Linked DNA regions of Homo sapiens: region 1 is linked to region 2. Evidence: fine-mapped expression QTL. Tissue or cell type: whole blood. Region 2 holds a variant in brackets; the other region holds the start of a gene. All regions are shown on one strand. Distances are between the middles of the regions.

What was found. PIP is the estimated chance that this variant, and not a neighbour inherited with it, causes the effect.
Region 1: it holds the start of KCNIP2-AS1, and the variant in region 2 is fine-mapped to the expression of KCNIP2-AS1 in whole blood (INTERVAL, PIP 0.98).

Annotation. Positions count from the first base shown.
Region 1 is chr10:101,814,097-101,822,197 of GRCh38, reverse strand. It overlaps KCNIP2-AS1 (KCNIP2 antisense RNA 1), which reads right to left and starts at 3,130. Exons shown (of 3, transcript NR_045118.1): 1 at 2,950-3,130. OGA (O-GlcNAcase) reads left to right here and starts at 3,754. Exons shown (of 16, transcript NM_012215.5): 1 at 3,754-4,374. The coding sequence starts at 4,176. RefSeq lists enhancers at 3,725-3,844, 3,646-4,221 and silencers at 3,995-4,054, 4,135-4,194.
Region 2 is chr10:101,746,778-101,754,882 of GRCh38, reverse strand. The region is part of intron 2 of LOC105378458 (a long non-coding RNA gene); the gene reads left to right. Among named protein-coding and RNA genes, the nearest start is that of LINC03046, 21 kb to the right of the region's middle. The variant T/G (reference allele first, on the strand shown) is at 4,247.

The DNA of each region.
Region 1 (8,101 bases), 67 kb before region 2:
CTCCATTTCTTCCTCTCCTTCATTCTCCCTCCACCCCCATTTAATCAATCACCAATTCTACCACCAAAGGTACACCACCTCTCTCTCTCTGATGCTGTTTCCTAGCCCAAGCCACTATTGCTACTCACCTAAATTACTCCTTCCTATTTGTCCATCTGAAGTAGCTCCTCCTTGATGCAGTTGGCAGGTTTCTTCCCTTAATAGCCCTTACCACAAACTGTGAGTTCCTATGTGTGTACTGAATTTGTTATTGTCTGGTTCTCCAAACAGAATGTAAAATCTGTGAGGGCAGGGCCCTATCTCATTCATTCCGCAAATATTCATCATAGGTCTACTAAGCACTGTTACTGTTGTAGGTGTTGGGGGTGGGTGGAGAGAGGTGTGGTATGGTGAGAAAGTGTATAGCAGTTATGTGGCAAGAACCACTCTTCAAATTTGAGGGACACAGAAATGGGGCAAACCTTCCCTATGAGACTGGACTATGGAAAGTAGGAGAAATTGTGGCTGCTGACTTGCTGGCAGTGATTAAGGCAAAGAGGAAAATGTCATGAGACTAAGGACATCAGCCAGAATGACAGCCCCCAAATCTCCTGTCAACCTATAAGGAAGAAGCTGAGGCAAAATGAATACAAGTAGAGAGTTTATTATAAGCTTGAGGATTGCAACGAAAGAGCATAGATTCAAGTTGCCCTAAATAGACACTCTGATTAGCAGCAGTTACAAGTGGATTTTTATAGGGAAAGAAGAGGCAGTTCCTGAGTTATTTACCAACAGTTTACATTAAAATAACATAAGCTATTGATTGGCTATACATTGTTAAACTATAGGGTGTGTGTTAGAATGTCCAGTACAACATTATTAGGTTAATTTATAGCTACTTGTGGCAAGAGCAAGCAGTGTCAAGAGATGAATACATAGCTCAAAGGAGGGAGGCATAGGATGTGATTCTGTCATTTTCTTTTCTTTTTTTTTTTTTTTGAGACTGAGTCTCACTCTGTTGCCCTGGCTGGAGGGCAGTGGCACGATCTTGGCTCACTGCAACCTCTGCCTCCCAGGTTCAAGTGATTCTCCTGCCTCAGCCTCCCAAATAGCTGGGATTACAGGCGCGCACCACCATGCCCAGCTATTGTTTGTAGTTTTAGTAGAGACGGAGTTTCAACATGATGGCCAGGCTATTCTTGAACTCCTGACTTTCTGCCCGCCTTGGCCTCTCAAAGTGCTGGGATTACAGGCGTGAGCCACTGAGCCCGGCTGATTCTGTCATTTTAATGCCTCGCTGGGCCTATTTATTTATTTTTAATTTTTAAAGATTTATTTATTTTTTAATTTTTTTTTTTTTAGAGGCAGGGTCTTGTTCTGTGGCTCAGGCTGGAGTGCAGTGGTGAGATCCTAGCACTACAGGTGCACACCACTACGCCTGGCTTTTTTTTTTTTTTTTTTTTTTTGTTTTTTTTTTGAGATGGAGTTTAGCTTTTGTTGCCCAGGTTGGAGTGCAATGGCACGATCTCGGCTCACGCAACCCGGGTTCAAGTGATTCTCCTGCCTCAGCCTCCCGAGTAGCTGGGATTACAGGCATCTGCCACCATGCCCAGCTAATTTTGTATTTTTAGTAGAAACGGGGTTTCTCCATGTTGGTCAGGCTGGTCTCGAACTCCCGACCTCAGGTGATCCATCTGCCTCGGCCTCCCAAAGTGCTGGGATTACAGGTGTGAGCCACCACGCCCGGCCTATTTTTATTTTTTTATAAAGACTGGGTCTGGCAATATTGCCCAGGCTGGTTGCAAACACCAACACTGCGCCCAGCCATCTGGGCCTGATAATTTAAAAGGACTCTCATTCCTCAGATAAAAGTTCTTTTCGGCCAGGTGAGGTGGCACGTGTCTGTAATCCCAGCACTTTGGGAGGCTGAGACTGGAGGATCACCTGAGCCCAAGAGTTTGAGACCAGCTTGGGCAAGATGTTGAGACCCCCGTCTCTACCAAAAATGAACAAATTAAAAGAGTGTGGTGGCGGGCACTCGCCTATAGTCCCAGCTACTCGGGATGGCTAAGGCGGGAAGATCCCTTGAGAGCCCAGGAATTCGATACTTAAGCTATGATTGCACTAGCCTGCGTGGCAAAATGAGACCTCTTCTCTTACAAAAAAAAAAAAAAAAAAAAAATTGTGTTCTCAACCCCAACGGACCACAATATCCAGTAAAGCTGCTATGGCCCCTAACTCTCAGCACAGGAGGTCCCTTAAGAAAATGCTTGTCCGGCCGGGCGCGGTGGCTCACACCTGTAATCCCAGCACTTTGGGAGGCCGAGGCAGGTGGATCACCTGAGGTCAGGAGTTCAAGACTAGCCTAGTCAACGTGGCGAAACCCCGTCTCTATTAAAAACACAAAATTAGCCGGGTGTGGTGGCGGGTGCCTGTAGTCTCAGCTACTCGAGAGGTTGAGGCAGGAGAATAGCCTGAGCCCAGGAGGTGAAGGCTGCAGTGAGCCGAGATTGCGCCACTGCGCTCCTGCGCTCCAGCCTGGGCGACAGAGTGAAACTCTGTCTCAAAAAAAAAAAAAAAGTTTGCTCCTAACCCCCATCTCAACAATCCAGGACTGAAAAGAAGAGGGACCATGAAAGTCCCTGAAACTACAAGTTGGGCTACGGCTAAAGAAGGTAAATATCAGACTGAAGTGTAAGATGGACATTACTAAGTCTTAATCATCATTTCATGTTTATACCTCACAGGTTGAGATAGATTTCTCAAGCATCATAAATGTAAAGTGCATTAGGGTAGGTCTACAAGAGAGCTCTGAGAACATACAGCAAGGAGACCCAAACCCATCTAGGGCTCAGGGAAGGCTTCCCAAGGAAGCGATGCCCATGCCGAGGCCGAAGGGATCTCATGCCCCACTGCACACACCGCGCGCTCCCCATTCCCAAACAAGGCAGGCTTTTCATGCCTCCCTACCTTTGGACTCTGTTGTTCGTTCCACTTTCCTGGAGTGCTGTCTTCCCTCCCCTTCTGCTCAGTCAGGCTAACTTCACATCCTTTATAATCCAGCTGAAAAGTGAAGCCATGCCCACGGCCTCTCCCCAAAGGAGGAGTGAGTATCACCTGTTCTGAGCTCCGAAGTTCTTGGGGACACCTTGTGGGAACTGCGTGTGTGGTGGCTTGTCTCCACCACCGTACTGTGAGCTCATAGTGTTCTAGAGCCCAGCACGAGGCAAGCTCTATAGATGTCTACTGAATGAAGGAATGAACGAATGATTACATTTTAAATGGGATTAGGGGAAAATGATTCAAGGCAGAGGGGTGAGCTGAGCTCCTTGGAATGGTGTCTTTACCGAACCAAGCCTGGGTTAGGCAGATGTAATGAGCCCACCTATTACAAGAATCTCCATAGAAAGTAGGTCAGTTCTTTCCTATCTCTTTAAGAACGAGAGGCCGCGGCTCCGCGCCTGCGCACTGAGAGAATAAACACCTCTCCTTTTCACCTTCCCCCCTTCTCCCTATTGCCCCAACCGGCGGCAGCCTCCTCCCATACTCCCCTCCTTCGGGGCGGGTAATGGTCCGTCCGTCCCAGGGTGCCAGGCTTGTTTCGGAGGGTGGCAAGCAGAAATGGTACATTCCACTGCCTTCATTACCTTCTGCTTTTCGCGTCTCCTGTTCTATTTCCCCCTACCTAAAGAAGCTTAATAGGCTAGCCCCAAAGAAGGCGGGGGAGCCGGGCGGAGGGGACCGGTCTGAGCCGGTCTGCAGCGCAAGCGCAGTGCGGATAAACAGGAAGCGGGCGGTGGAGGCAGCAGCAGAGGGAGAGCTCGGGGCTTGGAGGGGAAACAGCGGAAGACCTAAGATTATCGGGAGGGCAGCAGAGGCAGAGAACGAGGACAGGACCCTTGGCCGTCTTCTTCCAGGGAACGAGAGGTCACAGCCTCGCTCTCCGCTTAGGCTTCTGGCGCCCCAGCTTAAAGCCGAGGCTGCGGCTGACAAAGGGCTCGCGCCGGTGCCGCCGCCCTTCTCATCCGGGCATTCGGGTCCCTGCGGAGAGGGAGGGGGAAGGGCAGAGGGGGAGGGGAAGGAGCCGGAGGGGCGCACACTTGGAGCTGAAGCCCTCTCCAGGGCTCCGGGCCGGTGCCCCAACGGACAGAGGTCGAGGAGGACCCGCAGAGGTGGCAGCGGCCGGGGGCAGGAGGATGGTGCAGAAGGAGAGTCAAGCGACGTTGGAGGAGCGGGAGAGCGAGCTCAGCTCCAACCCTGCCGCCTCTGCGGGGGCATCGCTGGAGCCGCCGGCAGCTCCGGCACCCGGAGAAGACAACCCCGCCGGGGCTGGGGGAGCGGCGGTGGCCGGGGCTGCAGGAGGGGCTCGGCGGTTCCTCTGCGGTGTGGTGGAAGGTGAGCGCCCTCCTTCCCTCCCCGTTTTGGCACTAACACGTTCTGTCCTCGGGAGGAGGGTGGTGGCGGGGATTTTGGAGACTCTAAAAGGCCGGAAAGCCTCTGGGTCTGAAATGTGGCCCTCCTAAAGCGAGGGGAGAGACGAGATGTTGGGCGAATCTCCTTGCACGTCTTAAGACGGCGTCGAATTCCCCCCTGGCCACTCACAAGTCTGACCCCACCCGTCTTGGGCTTGGAGCCAGGCCACCTCCTAAGGAGGCGGTGGTTAAGAGCCTGGTGTTCTGTTAGCCTCTGAGTTCTACTTCTTTGTACCTTGGGATCTTATTCCCTAGGGTTGTCTGGTTCCAGTGAAAAAATATGTGTAGTGCTTCTGTCACCACCCTTTGTGGAAAATCGGCCCACACTGACGTGCTTGTACTTCTGGAGTGAAGAGAAGCACGTTTGGCCTATAGTATTTCAAGTTCCACTTGGCTTAGAATATTTTTGTTGCTTCCCCCCACCCCCGCAAAGATTCATTTGCAACTTAGAAAATTGCCCTCTTTCCCAGCTACTGTACTTTGCTCTCGAGGGATGAAACTTTGGCTTTAATCACAGATTCTCGAAGTATCTGAGATGCGTAATTGGAATTTAGTGACCGCAGAAGCGGCTTTAAAAATGCCCTTCTCGCCTTTTTTCCCATTTACAGTCGAAAAGAACGATGGACTTTTTGGTAGTGAGGGAAAATTACCAGATGCTTGTTTCAGTTTCTGGATGAGAATGGACAGATAGTCCACCTTGCAGCTCTGTAGAGGCACGAATCGGTTACATTATTAGTCTTTCCGCAGTTACAGCATGTATTTGAATTTTCTGAAGTATTTTGGCCGATTCAGAGTTTCCTAGATGTCTGTTTTATATCTCTCTCGTATGTAATGGCGTGGATAAGGGTAAAAAATATATATATTTAAAAAACCAAAAAGGTATGGAAAAAGGATTGCTCTCGACGTTGAGAACATCAGCTTTTCTGTTTTTTTTCACCATATAAATTAGAGTATTCTTTCGAAAAATGGGTGGTGGTTATGGTACAGACCATAACAGGCTACTTTGCTGCTACAGTAAGGCATGAAAGAGTTCAGCGAAGTTAACTGTCTTGCAGAATTTGGGGGATTACAGAATGGAAAACTGCTATATAGTATTCATCAAAAATGATTGCATTGTGTGACTTATATCGTTGTATTTATTGGCTTGAGTGCAGGGAGATTTTAGAAAAAGAATCTGGTTTTTGTTATCAAAGATCTTGGAGTGGGGATGAGAGAGTGCTGGGAAATTTCGGAGCTAGACTGGAATGAGTCTAAGGAAACTTGCCAGTCCATTATACCTTCAGTTATAAAAGGAGAAAACTCATTTGGTTTAAATTCGTTTGTTTAGAATAGCATTAAAAGGCGATTCTTCCTATTTAAAGAACAGAGTTGTCTGCCATTCTCTCGTTTATTCCTCCTCCCTCCCGTGCCCTTGTATATTTTCTTAGTGACTGAGCACCTGAGCCAGCACTGATTTTTTGTGTGTTTTGTTGTTTTTGTTTTGGGAGACGGAGTCTCGCTCTGTCGCCCAGGCTGGAGTGCAGTGGCGTGATCGCGGCTCACTGCAACCTCCGCCTCCCGGGTTCGAGCAATTCTCCTCCCTCACCCTCCCAAGTAGCTGGGACTGCAGACACGGGCCCGGCTAATTTTTTGTATTTTAGTAGAAACGGGTTTCACCGTGTTGCCCAGGCAGGTTTCCACCTACGGAGCTCAGGCAGTCCGCCCGCCTCGGTCTTCCAAAGTGCTAAGATTACAGGCGTGAACTACCGCGCCTGGCTTTTTTTTTTTTTTTTTTTTTTTTTTTCTCTCTTTTTGATACCTCTTGGTTGGCACCAGCCGTAAAATGAATGAGCATAGAAATACTATAGTTACTGCTAGGATTTCTTTTTTGTTTTCTTTCCATCACAAAACTCTCTTGGTTTTTAACTTACATTAACAGCATTGCTTCCTCTTTGTGGTGCCAGTCAACCGAAACCATGAACCTGACTCTCAAAAGAGCCAAGGTAGGGTTTCTAAAGATTAAAATGTTTAATTAAGCTAGACATTTGAAAAGTCTTTTTTTATATTGGAGCAACTCTGAAAGGATGTTTAATGCCTACTCCTTAAAAAAAAAATGATAATGCTAAGTGCCGTAGGGATGCTAAAGACTTGTATAGGTCTGCCTGATCAAGAATATTTTATATTGGCCGGGCGCGGTGGCTCACGCCTGTAATCCCAGCACTTTGGGAGGCCGAGGCGGGCGGATCACGAGGTCAGGAGATCGATACTAGCCTGGCCAACATGGCGAAACCCTGTCTCTACTAAAAATAGAAAAAATTAGCCGGGCGTGGTGGCGGGCTCCTGTAATCCCAACTACTCGGGAGGCTGAGACAGGAGAATCGCTTGAACCCGGGAGTTGGAGGCGTAGATTGCATTGAGCCGAGATAGTGCCACTGCACTCCAGCCTGGGCGACAGAGTGAGATTCCGCCTGAGAAAAAAAAAAAAGAATATTTTGTATCACTTGTGAGAGGCTAACATTAGATTGTCCAGATGAAAGTGCTACAGTTATACATTGGTATGTAATGAATTTTAATTTGGTCTGTCATTGTCCTTTTTGTGGTGCAGAGGAGTCATTCTGCCTAGAGATTGGAGCTAAAATACATTGCAGAAATTTGTTTTAGACTAGTCTCTTATGTAGATTGTGTGGGTTTATGTAGAACATTTTGTGTTCAGAATGCTTTTATTAACCTTCTTCATGGTACTCTTGAGAGGCTGTCCTTATCTCTTACTGATGATTAGACTGAGACAAGTGGAAAGTAAAGGTTAGACAAGATGTAAAGTGTGTGGTTTGAGCTGTGATGAGCACACTAGGGAGTTCCAGATACCAGTTTGATGCTTATTCAACCATTTAGGTTATCGGTCTGCGAGTTTGTTTTCTGCAGTGTGTGCATAACTAGTGTTTTGTCCTCTTAGAGGATACTCTGGGGACATTCTTGAGTTTTCTTTGTTTATTCCTTTCCGTTTAAGGACCAGAAGTAATATTCTTGAATTTTCATTTGTTCAGATCTTTGCTCTGTAATTAAGATTGCGTGAGAGTTTGTTGTTTGGGCCAGTTAGGCTGTTGAATTTCTTGGGAATGTGGTTTCAGGCATTTTTTGGTCCCTTTGATTATATCATTGTATGTGGAACTTTTTTTGAGAGAGAGAGTTTTGCTCTGTCACCTAGGCTGGAATGCAATGGCGCGGATCTTGGCTCACCGCAGCCTCCGCCTCCTGGATTCAAGCAGTTCTCCTGCCCTAGCCTCCCAAGTAACTGGAATTCCAGTCCTGGCCAGGAACTTTTTTTAAAAAAGAGGAGCACGATCATAAAATTAAGTCAGATTCTTTCCTAATCCTATCTCTGATTTGTTTTTAATTGCTTTACCTGTTTATCTCCCCTCACCCTTTTGTTGTTGTTGTTTGAGATGGAGTCTTGCTCTGTAGCCCAGGCTGTAGTGCAGTGACGCAGTCTCGGCTCACTGCAAGTCCGTCTCCCAGGTTCAAGTGATTGTTGTTTCTCAGCCTCCCAAATAGCTGGGATTACAGGCATTTGCCACCATACCTGGCTAATTTTTGTATTTTTAGTAGAGACATGGTTTCACCATGTTGGCCAGGCTGGGTCTGGAACTCCTGACCTCAAGTGATCTACCTGC
Region 2 (8,105 bases):
GACTTCGTGATCCGCCTGTCTCAGCCTCCCAAAGTGCTGGGATTACAGGCCTGAGCCACCATGCCCGACACCACTTTTTTTTTTTTTTTTTTTTTTTCTGAGACAGAGGCAGCTATATTGCAGGAGCCCAGAACTCCTGGACTCCAGTGATGCTCCCGTCTGATCTCTCAACTAGCTGGAATTACAGGTGTGAGCCACAGTGCTTGGCTTCCTTCCTCTTTTGTGGAAGGTTCTAGTGATGCAGAACTTTTTAACATTTCCCAAATGCTACATGCTTTTCCATGCATTTGTTTTTTCATGTGCTGCTCCCTCTGCCTAGTGAACTCCTACATACCCTTCGAGACCTAAACTTTTCTACCCTCTATTATGTCTCCCAGGCAATCCTCTGGGCTTATACATTATTCTATTTACAACAGTGAGTTGTAACTTCTTATTTGTAACTATAATGTTTCAAGTAGCCTTGGAATATAGTAGGTGCTTTATAAATTTTGGTAAATTAATGAATGAAGTTGCCATTATGGGGCAAATAAGAGGGCTGCAAACATTATCTGGGGAAACTTGGCCAACCAGTCCCCAGAGTTCTGGACCCTTCTAAGATTAGAGATAGTTTGAGAAAAGATAACAACAACAAAAGCTACATACCATTTATTAAGTGCTTACTGTCTACTAGAGTTGTTCTAAGCCTTGGTACACTTCATCTCATCTCATCCTCATAATAGTACTATGAGGTAGTTATTACCTTCATGAGGGTTTTTTCCCCTGAATACATTATCTTCATTTTACATTGGGGAGACTGAGGTTCAGAAAAGCAAAGGAATTTCTTCCTTCCAAAGTTTTACAGCTAGGATTTAAATCCAGATCTGGGCCAGGCACAGTGGCTCACACTTGCAGTCCCAGCATTTTGGGAGGCCAAGGTGGGAGAATCACTTGAGGCCAGGAGTTCAAGACCACTCTGGGCAACAAAGTGAGACCCCGTCTCTACAAAAAATAAAAAATTACCTGGGAGAGGTGGTGTGCACCTGTAGTCCCAGCTACTTGGGAGACTCAGGTGAGAGGATCACTTGAGTCCACTGGATGACAGAGCGAGACCTTGTCTCTAAATAAATAAATCCAGATCTGTTGGCCTTTCAAATCCAGGTTTTTAACCCCTAAGCTTTTCTGACTCTGAATTATCGAAGTGTGAACTTTTTCTTCTATATCATGGGAGAACCAAATCCCATTGCTCCTTCTGCCCAGTCTTGGAAACTCCATTGTCAGATGGGTCCCAAACTGTATGGCAGGGGGACTGGGATTACCCAGACAGGCTGGGAGAGATCAGAAGTTCCAACCTGATCTTTGTGCTGAGATCTTGACCTGCACCCTTGGTGGGGTGGGGGGGTTACTAATCATTTACTTACTGCTTATGAACTCTGCCACCCCTGGAATGGCCAAGGTGCAGCTAAATTAGCAAAAAAAAAAAAAAAAAGTGGGTCTGAGATTGGCTGGGGTTCACCTCTTCAGGTTACAAGGCAGTTTGTTAGGAAAATAAAACCCTTCATTGGAAGCTCAGAAGGACTTCACTTTGAGGGTTGAACCCAGGTTCTAGCCTGGCTTTTGTTACTAACCAGCTGTGACCTTGGGCAAAGGGCTTAACCGTATAAGCCTTTGTAAGTGGGCAGGAAAATGGGCAAGAACACAATGCACTTAGGAAGAAAAGGGCCAGACAACACCCAGAGGATGGGAATCTGAGCCTCCAGGAAAGAGGCTCCAGAGATGCCAGTCAGTGGCAGCGTCCCAGTGTGCTGGGGGGAGTGAGAGGCCACTTAAGAGCAGCCACCAAATGGGAGAGGAGCATGGGAATGGGAGAGGCAACCAAAGACAGAGAAAGCATTCTCCTCTCCTCTTGTGGGATGCCAAATTAGGTCCTATCAATCTCTCTGGAATGTCCAGAGGTGGGCATGGGGAAAGTCCCACCTTCAGGAAAAGCCGACCTCCCCCTTTTTTGGGCCTTCTTGTACCCAATACATACTTCTAGCTCGGAAGTGTCTTCACTGCCTTCTATTTAAAATGTCGATCTTCTTAATAGAAAGTGAATTTCTTGAGGGAAGAAAACGTAACTTATCCATCTGTATTCCTCAGCTGCTACACTGCCCGACTGCCTGGTACCAGTAGAGACTACATAATTGACTGATGGAAGAATGAAAGAATGAAGGAAGGAAGGAAGGAAGGAAGGAATGGAAATCCGATGATTAGGCAGAGGTCCAATGTATGTCAGAGTAGAGTAAATCTTTAAAGCTCATTACAAAAAAGGAGGTCCTATTTGGGAAGTAGAATCCCAAATGACATAGGGAATTTGGGAGCAGAAGAGCCAAGGAGAGCTGAGAGTACCAATACACGTGGTCCCTAGGGCCACCAGTGGCCACAGAATTCTTGGCTGGGTAGGCTATTGCTTAAGCTCCTTAGAGAAGATGTAAAGACAGGTGGCACACAGAGATTGCACACAGAGCTCTCATTCATTGTCCTTAGCTAGAGTCACCATATGGTTTATACATATTTTCCCAGGGTGATTATTAATACTTCAAAAGTGTCAAAGTGGGAGGACTGCCTGAGTCTCAGAGGTCGAGGCTGCAGTGCGCCATGTTTGGGTCACTGTACTCCAGCCTAGGGAGCAGAGTGAGACCCTGTCTCAAAAAAAAACAGTGCCTCAGTCCTGGTTTGGATGACAAACTTTTTTTTAGGTGGTATTTTTTTCCTCCATCTTTTCCATTTTTGTTGTTGAGATATAATTCACATACCACAAAATTTACCCCTTTAAAGTACATAATTCATACTTTTAGTATACTGAGAAACTTTTACAATCAACAGTATTATTTAATTCCAGAACATTTTCATTTATTTATTTATTTATTTATTTATTTATTTATTTATTTTTGAGACGGGGTTACTCTGTTGCCCAGGTGAGAGTACAGTGGCGTGATCATGGCTCACTGCAGTCTCTACCTCCCAGGCTCAAATGATCCTCCCGCCTTGGCCTCCTGAGTAGCTGGGACTACAGGCGCAAGCCACCATGCCCAGCTAATTTTTTTTTTTTTTTAAATTTTTAGGAGAGTCGAGGTCTCACTATGTTGTCCAGGTTGATCTTGAACTCCTGAGCTCAAGCGATCCTCTCATCTCAGCCTCCCAAGGTGCTAGGATGACAGGCGTGAGCCGCCACGCCGGGCCAGAACATTTTCTTTACCCTACAAGAAACCCTGTATCCATTAGTAGTCACTCCCTATTCCCTGGCTCCCCAGCCCCTGGCAACTGCTATTTTCTGTCTTTATGGATTTACTTATTCTAGACATACAAATAAAATTATACAACATGCAGCCTTTTGAGTCAGGCTTCTTTCACTCAGCATAATGTTTTCAAGGTTCATCCATGTTGTAGCATGAATCAGTACACAGGACAATAAATTTTTCAGCCACTCTGTGTATAGACCTTAATATTTTATCTGTTATATTGTGGGTGTTTCCCTGGAGCCAAGGAGGAATTGAGATAGGGAAGCCAGGCTGAGATTCTCTTACTGGAGAGGCCATTCTGTTGACTCAAGGCACAGAAACACTGGTGTGGGGATGAGGCCAAGGAGCCTGATTTAGGATTCTAGACTCTTGTGTTGGAATTTTGTATTAGCTTTGAGGTCTTGTCTTCCTGATAGTAGTTACAGACAAATGACAACAGTCTAATCTACTGCCAGCTTCTTGGAGCAAAGGAGCAGTCAATGAATTAATAGAATGAACCAGGAGAAAAATGAATCAGAGACTCTACATTTGAGCCTTTGCTCAGCTACTGGCTTTGAGTGATTTAGGTCCCTTTACTTTTTCTAGTCTCTGTAAAATGAACACAGGAGGCTGGGTGTGGTGGCTCACGCTTGTAATCCTAGCACTTTGGGAGGCCAAGGTGGGTGGATCACCTGAAGTCGGGAGTTCGAGACCAGCCTGACCAACATGGAGAAACCCTGTCTCTACTAAAAATGCAAAAAAATTAGCTGGGCGTGGTGGTGCATGCCTGTAAGCCCAGCTACTCGGGAGGCTGAGGTAGGAGAATCGCTTGAACCCAGGAGGCGGAGGTTGCAGTGAGCCAAGATCGCGCCATTGCACTCTAGCCTGGGCAACAAGAGCGAAACTCCATCTCAAAAAAAAAAAAAAAAAAAAAAGAACACAGGGACAAAGAGAAAAATCCCAATGCCATCATTAGGTGTTAAGACACTTCAAAGAATCACTCAGTA[T/G]TAAAATGTTATGGATGTTTCTACAGATTCATGTCTACTTGTTTCATTTCTTTTTTTTGTTTGTTTTTGAGACGGAGTCTCGCTCTGTCGCCCAGGCTGGAGTGCAGTGGCGCGATCTCGGCTCACTGCAAGCTCCGCCTCCCGGGTTCAAGCCATTCTCCTGCCTCAGCCTCCCGAGTAGCTGCGACTACAGGCGCCCGCCACCACGCCCAGCTAATTTTTTGTATTTTTAGTAGAGGCGGGGTTTCACTGTGTTAGCCAGGGTGGTCTCGATCTCCTGACCTCATGATCCGCCCGCCTCTGCCTCCCAAAGTGCTGGGATTACAGGCGTGAGCCACCATGCCCGGCCTACTTGTTTCATTTCTTCTAATGGATGGAGTTCCTAGGGCCAAGGGCCAATTTTTATACAATTCTGTCTGTCCTACAATACCTGACACAAGGCCTTACACATATAGGGGCCCAGTGTGTATTGCAAAAAAGAAAGAAGCCTGACTAAGTAACATTCATTAGTGTGTGGAAGTATTTCCTCATTTCCAGAACGATCTGGCAAGGACTCTGAGGCTAGGGTGAGGGGCCTCACACTTCTACCTCAGGCAATCAGAAATGGTTTTGAGGTGCCACTAGATTCCATACCAGGAGGGAGGCCACCGAGCAGCAGGGCCTGGGAGTTGGCAGTGCTGGAAGGCTGTCCTCAGGGGAAAACCGAGGAGGACAGGCGTGCTAGCCAGGCCTGCTGCGCTGAAAGCAGCAGACGGGTAATTTCCAAATGACCATTTCAAAGGAAGGTTGAATTTCTCCAAGATAAGAGGGAGAGCAGAGAGCATGCCTGTATCTCTAACCCCCTGAGCTCATGGCCGTGATAACAGCTGTGGGGTTGGAAACTTAATGCTGATGAAAGAGTTAAAGGGTGGCTTCGGGCAGCTATCGGTGACACTGCTAGGAATTGAGCATGCTCCTGGAGCGCGGCTGGGGACTGGTGTTACTCCATGAATAGAGGCCACTCTCAGGGAGTTTTTCCAGGAACAGAATGGGGTCAGGGAGCCGCTTGGGGAACAATGGTTGCCACCGACTAGCTGAATTTCTTACAATCACACACCATACCCCCTGATCAAATAGCTCCTTTGTCCGGCTGATATAAAAACATGTCATACAATGATGATTTGGAAGAATGACACGGGTTTGCCTTTCACAGAGATCAGAAGGGCTTGTTGTGCAGCAGGGGGAAAAACATCAGAGTCAAGGAAAACCTGGAGAATAAAAGGAACAAATGGAAACAGACAGCAACAATAAGAAAAGGGCTGGGTTGCTGGAAAGACAGACAAGGGCTTGGTTACCAGCAGGGAAACCAAGCAGCCAGGCAGCTCCAAGGAAAGGCCTGCTGGCTGCCCAGTAACCAGTTTCACAGCGCCCCCTTGAAACTCCTGAGAAACTCAAGGAGGTAAAGAAATAACAAGAAGAATGGCCTCAATTGGCTAGTGAACGCAGGGCGGTATACACAGCCCATAGGAAACGTAAAGGGACCTGAGAGATCATCCTGTCCAAACCATTATTTTATAGATGGGGACACTGAGGCCTGGGGAAGGACGGTGGCTTTGTCATCTACCCAGATTGTCTAGGTTCAGGTCTTGTTTTACAACTGCTTCTTCTATTTCTTGACTTTGAAGATGGAAATGCTGGAACTTCTCAAGCACTCTCTGTTCAGAGAATAGAAGAGATGAACATTAGGGGTTGAAATGAGACTCCTGCCTGAACCAGGGATTCCAACAAGGAACTCAAGCAAAGTACTGCACTTCTGTGTGCCTCTGTTTCCCCATCTATAAAGCGGGGCCACTCCTGAAAGCAGGCAGGTAGCCAGCCACAGGCTCAGTCATCATTTATTAAATGCCTTCTGTGCATCCCACCCTGGAAGAGGGCACTGGAGAGAGGAAGCAGGGAGCCTCGCTGAAAGATAAGACACAGTCACTGGACCCAGCCAGCCAGGCAATCTAGAGAGACTGTGTGGACACCAAACCCTGATTCTCAGCTGAGGCCTGTAATTGAGGTGGGCAGCTTTCTTGTCTGTTTCAGGACGGTCAGACTGACACTTTGTTGTTCAAAGACAGAAGGCTCATATAGCAAGATTCCTGCAGCTTCCAGTCACCAAGTAGGTTTACAGAGAAAATGACGATTGTCAATGTCACTAATTAACATTCACCTCTAGTACAGCAACTGTAAGTGGATCCCAAGCCTTTATATTAGATTTCCTTAGAACTATGTGGGGTTAAAAAGCAAGAGTATTTTGTGTTAATATATTCCCTTTTATTCACAGATCCGGAAATCCTTTACCAGCAGATAGCCAGTTCTCAATGCTACCCCTGTGGGGAATGTGGCAAATGCCACTCTCCTCGTTTTCCAGCTGGGAGGCCTGGGTCACAGAAAGGTTCTAAGTCCTGCAGTGGGGGAGGGAATGCAAGTCTGTCACCCTTTCCTTCACCACTCTGGCTTTGGACCAAAGAACAAGGTGCTGGAAGGCAAAACTGAAGAGTAAACCAACAATGGATGTGGTAAACTTCTGTTACTGGAAAGCAAAAATGCTTTCATATATATATTATATACATATTGTATATATAATACATATACACATATTGTATATATAATACATATATACATATTGTATATTATATACATATCATATAATATATTATATACATATCACATAACGTATTATATACATATATAATATATACATATTACATATTGCATACATATTATATATAATGTATATTATGTGATATGTATATTGTATATCATGTATATGTATATGTATATGTATATATGTATATGTATATCATATATATCATACATGATATATAATATATATTTTATATATTATATACTATATTATTATATATAATATAGTATATATTTATATAATATATAATATATTACATATATTATATAATATATATTATATATTACATACATATATATTTTATATATATATTTTTTGAGATGGAGTTTCACTTTTATTGCCCAAGCCGGAGTGCAGTGGTGTGATCTCAGCCCATTGCAATCTCCACCTCCTGGGTTCAAGTGATTCTCCTGCCTCGGCCTCATGAGTAGCTGGGATTACAGGCATGCACCACCACGCCCAGTTAATTTTTGTATTTTTAGTAGAGATGAGGTTTCACTATGTTGGCCAGGCTGGTTTCGAACTTCTGACTTCAAGTGATCCACCCGCCTTGGCCTCCCAAAGTGCTGGGATTACAGGCATGAGCCACCGCGCCCAGCCATGCTTTCATATTTTAAAAATTTTGCTTAAATAGATCATATGTTTACATGGTACTTCAAAGGGTACAACAGAATATTGTACCCCTCGCAATCTCCCTGCAACCTCTGTCTCTACACACAGCATTTCCTACCCTGGAGAAGACCCAGTTATCAGGTTCTAAGAACAATTCCATGTAAAGTCATATGATGTTCAGTCAACGACAGCTGCATATCGGATGGTGGTCCCATAAGACTATAATACTGTATTTTTTACTGTATACCCTTTCTGTTTCCATATATTTAGATACACACATATTTGTCATTGTGTTACAGCTGCCTACAGTATCCAGTACAGTCACATGCTGTATAGGTTTGTAGCCTAGGAGCAATAGGCTCTACCATATAGGCTATGTATGTAGGAGGCTGTACCACCTACGTTTGTGGAAGCACACTCTGTGATGTTCACACAACAAGGAAATCACTAATGATGCATTTCTCAGAACATATCCCCCTTATTAAGTGACACATAATGATATTTATAAATACAAACATAAAATACTTTTTCTTGCTCACATATGATATATAAACTATTCTGCACATACAGAACATT